Linked DNA regions of Homo sapiens. The protein of the gene in region 1 interacts with the protein of each later gene in a biochemical or structural test. Each region holds a gene or a part of one and is shown on either strand. Other genes may lie near its edges.

Region 1 (3,076 bases):
CGCCAGGCCAATGTCCTGTGGAGCAGGGAGGATGAAGGATGGGGAGAGGCAGCCCTGGGTCATGCTCGAGGTGGGGGCACCGGGGGTGTCAGCAGCCCCTCCAGGGGTCTCTGGGACACTTCCCTGGCGGCAGAGACCTTCCCTGGCCGCCCAGGATCCGCACCTCCACCGGGCCTCCTCCTCCAGGCAGCCCTCCTTGACCACATTCCTAAGCCCGTGGGCGCCGTTCCCAGGTAGCCGGCAGGTGGCAGCACAGGCCGTGGGAGGCTCCGCTCCAGCCCCGCCCTATGCCGCGCGACCCTCGGGGCGCCGAGCCTCCTTGGCGGGGCCCGGGAGCAGGCAGCACACTTCACCCACCCGCACATCGATCCCCGCCCGCCCCCGGCGCCAAGCCAGCCCCTGGGTGACCCCGGCTCCCTCCGAGGCCGCGGCGTACCTGCGAGAACTGCGCGAAGGTGCGGTCGGCCAGCATGGGCACGTGCCCCAGCAGCTCGTGGCAGCAGTCCCTGCGCGTAGGAGGGAGAAGGGGGCTGAGGGGCCGCCCGTCGCACCCCCCACCCTCGGGCTGGCGGCCAGGGCGCGCACTCACGGCTCAGGGGAGTGCATGGGCGAGGACGCGTGGCGGATATACTGGGTGCACTGGAACACGCGGAAGGCCAGGCTGGCCAGGAAGTCCCGGGCGGACAGCAGGCCGGCCACAGGCCGCAGCTGGAAGCCCGTGCGCTCTGCAAGGGGCCACGCGGGTCACTGCCGAGCCGGGACGGGCTGGAGCCGCGCTGGGGTGGGGCGCTTGGCTGACCATCCCCGGCCCCCCGGCTCTGCGCCCCTCCCGTCTGGGCACACCCTTCAGGAAGCGGGAGACGTCCTCCAGCTGGGGGATATTGTCTTCCCGGTAGCCGCTGAAGCGCTCCAGCAAAGCAAAGGCCTCCAGGTGCTCCCCGCAGGCGTGCGTGGCGTAGAGGCCCTTCAGCGTGGTGTAGACCTCCTTCCTGCGGGCAGCCAGGCTCAGGGCCCTCTAATGCCCCACCCCAGTGCCCGAAACCCCCCTCCTGAACTGTGGGTGCCTCTGCCTGCCTGAGCCCCTACCAACGCAGGCCTCTTGGGGACCCCTGAAGACCCAGGCCCCCGGGAGGGGCTTTTGCTGGTGGCTTTAGGGAATCCCAGGGGATAGGGGGCCATGAGGGGCGGTCCCTCAGCACACTGGGGATGGCCCGACAGGATGGGTAGCCTCTTCCTCCCAACCCAACATTCTGAGCCCTGCAAGTCCCTCTTCTTCCCGGCCTTAGTCTCTCCTGTTGTGCCAAGGTCCCTGGAGGCGGCCCTCACACGCCAGGATTCCAGGAGGCATCCCCCGGGCTCCTCCCCAGCCCCTAGCTGCACGGAGGTCTCACCAGGTGGCAATCTCCTCGGCGGTGTACTCCACACGGGGAATCGGGTCGCCGCTGGGGAGGGGGCCAGTGGTCAGCAGGTCCCCTCGGGGAGTGAGAAGGGCAGGAGGGAGGGAGGGAGCTTCACTGGGCACAGGTCCACACCCGCCTAGTGCAGCGAGGCCTTTGGGTTGGAGGATGGACAGGAGGGTGCACCCCAGCTGACTGTGCCGTGAGCCGGCTATGTGGCCTCGGCAGGTTGCTCTAGCCCCCCTGGGCCTCAGTTTCCCCACTGGGATTTGGGGACATGGAAAGCCCTGGAGCAGAGCTGCCTGGCAGGAGGCACTGATGCTGGTGACAAGATGGGTCCTCCCCTTTGTCCTTCCCTCCCACCCCCCAGGTCCAGCGTCAGCCTGCAGGACGGAGTCTGGGTCCCGAGCGCAGGGGCCCCTCACTGCCTGTACTGGAAGGCGATCTCAGCAATCAGCTTCCTGCGCTGGCGGTACACCTGGTCCGAGAAGCCCTGAGGGCAGAGGGGATGCACGGGTCAGGAGGCTGTGCTGGGGTGGGGGCACAGGCCACGGAGGCTCCTGGAGCCGACAGACTCCTGTCCAGGGTTGGGCTAAGGGTAGGGGATGTGATCAGGGGCAGGAGGCCTGAGTGAGGGGCGCACCACTCACCGGGTGGTCCAAGTCCAGGTCAGGGTCGAACTTGGTGACCAGGTGATGACACTTGTCCAGCTCTGACACTTTTCTTGGGAACCAGGGGACTTTATGGGTGATGGAGGAAGAGATCTTGGTGAGCTCGGAGCCGTGGGGCTGTGTCACCCACCTTGAAGCAGCCTCCCCTACAAGACTTCCGGGGGGCAGAGGCAGCCGGGGCTGTGAGAGCTGCGGGGGGATCCTGGAGTGGCCCCAGGCCCGGACACGGATGTGTAGCAAAACGGGGTGCGGAGTGGAGCCCGCAGAGAGGGAACCAGGCCACCACCACGTGGTCACTGTAGGGTCCCCCTGCAGGAGCCCCTGCACCCCAGCCTCTCAAGGTCATTTGGTGGCCCTCAAGGACAGAAAACCGCCTCACCCTTGGGCCCCGCGGGGCTGCGCACGTCCTCTGACACCTGGCGCACACCACTGAGCAGGGCGGCCAGGTCCCCTCGGCGCACCTCGAGGCGCACGAAGTACTCCAGGTGGGGGCCCCCAGCTCGCGGCCTCTGGGCGGGCCGGGTCTCTAGATGGTGGATTTTGGCTTCAAACGTCTTAGGGAGCAAAAGCAGGAAGAGAGAGAGAAGGAGAAAGAGACAGAGATGGAGAGAGAGGGTGGGGTGGGCGGGGAGGAGGCACATCTGGCTGGCTGGCCAGGCCCTGCCCTTGACTTTTGTGCTAGCAGCACACAGATCCCGTTCTTCCAGGCTCAGGTCAGCTGTCGGCCACCAGGCCAGGGTTTGCCACTGGCAAGTTGGATTTTGTGTTACGTGCCTAACCAGGAGTTGTCACCGCTTGAGGCTTAACCTGGTTCTGGGCGGCTCGGTGTGTGTGTCCCAAGGCCATGCCACACAGTCCGGCTCCTCAGCCACTGGTCAGAAGGTGCCCCCAACCCTGGTGGCCTCATCCAGGTTTGTAGGATGGGCCCTGAGTCTCACTGGCCCCTGAGCGTCCAGGACACTGGCCAGAAGGGTCCGCTCCACCCCCACCTCCTGTTGCCTAGCAACA
Region 2 (3,110 bases), on another chromosome or scaffold:
ACCGAGCAGGCCAAACAAAATATGTCTGTGGGTCTGATTCATTCATTCATTCATTCATTCATTCATTCATTCATTCATTCATTCAACAAGCCTTTGTTGCGCGCCTACTTGGCACAAGGCACTGTTTCAGGTACTGGGGAGACTGCATGAACAAAACCTCAAAGTCCTGCCCTTATGGAGCTGACACTAGGTCGAGAGAAAGATAACAAGTGAAATAAGTGAACTATCTAGTGTGTTAGATTTTGAGAGTGTTAAGGAGAAAACGTAAAGCCAGGAAAGGGTGTGGGCAGCAGGTGTTCATGTCTAGAAGCTCAGCGTCTGTCACCACGTGGGGTGGTATCCAGCCCTACCAGGCCCTGGGGGCTCCAGGGTGGAGATGGTCCTCCTCCCTTCTCCAGCCTTTCTGCCCCCTGGCTCACATCCTCTTTTGCTCTCTGACTCCTCAACAGGCATAATCACCAGCAACACCCGGGACAATAATACGGGGGCCACCTACCCCCACCTGAACTTCAGCATTCCCATCACGGTGCTCCAGCCGGCCCTGCAGCAGTACAGCCAGACCCAAGACCTAGGTGGCCTCCGTGAGCTGGACCGCGCTGCTGAGCCAGTCAGGGTGGTGTGGCGGTTGCAGCGGCCCCTGGCAGAGGCCCCGCGGAGCAAGCTCTGAGGCTGTGTTACCACCTTTGGAAAGAAGAGTGACCTTTTTCTGCTGTAGGAAGTGATGTTGAGGTGACGGTGGCCTCAGGATTCAGGGCCCAGCCCCTGCAGGGGCCCAGGCTGCCTCTCATCTCCACCCACTGACTGCAGACTGGGCTTTGGGCTCTGGGGCAAACTTCTCTTCAGCCCCATGGATCCTTAACCTGGCAGCCCGTTTTGGGGTGCTTTCTTGAGCCCCCAGTTCTCTGTCCCCTAGCACTAGACTCAGCTGTATTGTTTTTCCTTCTGGGGAGCCCACTCCAACTGCACAGAAGTTCTGGGCCTGACAGGTAGATTCCAGCTGGAAGGCAGGCCCGTGCCTGGTTTTGCGTCTGTTCCCCTGAGGGCCATCGTCATCCTGGAGCTTCAATGGGGCCTTGGCTCCTGTCTGCCTCTCAGTCAGAGTCAGGGCTGACAAAGGACTCAGCTTCCTTAGCATCTCAGCAGAAACCTTGCTCTGAAGACCAGAGACAGAAGGGACAGAAACAGGAGTGCCTCCTGCTGTGCCAGGCCCATGGGCAGTGCAGGCAGATCCCTGAAGGTCAGCACTCCTGGGTCTTCATATGCCAACAGGGGCGCTCTTGACACTGTGCCTTCATTTTCCAGCCCACAGCCTGGGTCTCAGGGATCTTGAGGGGTAGAACATGTCTGGTTGGGGCTTGGGAATAAACATGATCTATTGAAAAACCTCTGTATTTATATATCAAATTGTTTCTTTTTTTCAGGAGTTGAACTGGGAATAGGCAAGTACCAGGCAAAGAAACACACCCTTTCCTTTTTTTTTTTTTTTTTTCTTTAGAGCTGTGGTCTTGCTCTCTCACCCAGGCTGGAGTGCAGTGTTGCGATCACAGCTCACTGCAGCCTCAAACTCCTGGGCTCCAGGAGACCTCCTGCCTCAGCCTCCTGAATAGCTGGGACTACAGTCGCGCACCACCACGCCTGGCTAATTTTTTATTTTTGTAGAAATGGGGTATTGCTTTGTTGCCCGTGCTGGCTTCAGCCTTCTGGTTTCAAGCAGTCCTCCTGCCTCAGCTTCCCAAAGTGCTGGGATTACAGGTGTGAGCCACTGTGCCCAACCCAGAAATACACCCTTTCTGTGCTGTTTTCTCAGCAGGGTGTGAGCTCACGGGATACGGTCCTGCCAGACTGGCCCTCATAGCTGGTCATGTGCCAGTCAGAGCTGGGTGGGGCTTGCAGGTCCCGGAAGGTGGTGGTCTTGACCTGGCAGCAGATGCTTAAAGAATGCCTAAGGTGGGTGGCAGTTGGGGAGTTCAAGGGTGAATGAGGCCAGGGCAGCCCCCAGGAGCTGAGGCCAACTCTTTGAGTCAGGACTGTGCCGTGTGCCCAGGGCCTTGCATGTGTGGGCCCTCGAGTGATTTCTACTGGCAGGCTGAAAGCCCTGTGAGGGGCGGCTGTGGGCGGAGGCCACGCAGGAAGAGTGCTTAGGAGTAACTTGTTTCTAACACCTGTGTGCTGAGTGCCAATGCTGGGTGTGGTGTTATGATATATATTGGTTTTCATCCAGCATTCCTGACTCGTAACTCTCATAGTCCTTGTTCCAGTCTTTGTTAGAATACTGGGTATGTTAGGGCTTGGGACAGGCCTCTGACCTCTGGGTATCCTTTCACTAATGTTCGCCCACCTTTTTCACAGTGGGTCCTAAAGACCTTCCCATGAGAGGGTCTCAATCCTAGGGGAAGGAATGTTGATGTCATGAACCTTCCATAAAAACCCAAGAGGACAGGGTTCAGAGAGCTTCTGGATAGCTGAACACCTGGCACTTCCTGGAGTGTGGCGTGCCCAGGGAGGGCACGGAAGCTCTGCACTCCTTCCCCTTCCCTCATTCCTTGCTCTATGTGCATCTCTTCATCTGTATCCTTTGCGATATCCTTTATAATAAACCGGTAAACATAAGTAAGTGTGTCTCTGAGCTCTGTGATCCACTCTAGCAAATTAATTGAACCCAAAAAGGAGGTCGTGGGAACTCAACTTGAAGCCAGTTGGTCAGAAGTTCTGGAGGCCTAGACTTGTGCCTGGTGTGGTTGAGGGGGGCAGTCTTGGAGACTGAACCCTCAACCTGTGGGGTCTGACAATGTCTCTGGGTAGATAGTGTTGGAACTGAATTAGAGGACACCCGGCTGATGTCCACTGCTTTTGGTGGGGAAACCCCACACACATTTGGTCACTGAAGTCTTCTGTGTTGATGATTGTGATGGCATGAGAGTAGAGGGAAAACACGATTTGAGGAGAGTTTTTCCTAAAACACGGGGCAATCACAGAACACTCCTGGGATGGTTGTTCCTCCCTTTACAGATTAGGAATGGGTCCAGAGGTCATGGCTAGTTTAAGAGAAGTTCTACAGTAAGTTAATGGTAGCAGAATCCTAGATCTGAGGTCTGACTTTGCTGTGAGAG

The links.
Region 2: of the proteins of TH (region 1) and TYSND1, one has a biochemical effect on the other in vitro, tested with the Homo sapiens proteins (one study listed by BioGRID).

Annotation. Positions count from the first base shown.
Region 1 is NC_000011.10:2,166,044-2,169,119, forward strand, and holds part of TH (tyrosine 3-monooxygenase), read right to left. Parts: intron 2,623-3,076; coding exon 2,448-2,622; intron 2,137-2,447; coding exon 2,048-2,136; intron 1,891-2,047; coding exon 1,823-1,890; intron 1,443-1,822; coding exon 1,392-1,442; intron 990-1,391; coding exon 844-989; intron 726-843; coding exon 590-725; intron 507-589; coding exon 437-506; intron 16-436; coding exon 1-15. UniProt on the Homo sapiens protein: Catalyzes the conversion of L-tyrosine to L-dihydroxyphenylalanine (L-Dopa), the rate-limiting step in the biosynthesis of catecholamines, dopamine, noradrenaline, and adrenaline. Uses tetrahydrobiopterin and molecular oxygen to convert tyrosine to L-Dopa.
Region 2 is NC_000010.11:70,137,481-70,140,590, reverse strand, and holds the end of TYSND1 (peroxisomal leader peptide-processing protease), read left to right. Parts: intron 1-449; coding exon 450-667; 3' UTR 668-2,610; downstream 2,611-3,110. UniProt on the Homo sapiens protein: Peroxisomal protease that mediates both the removal of the leader peptide from proteins containing a PTS2 target sequence and processes several PTS1-containing proteins.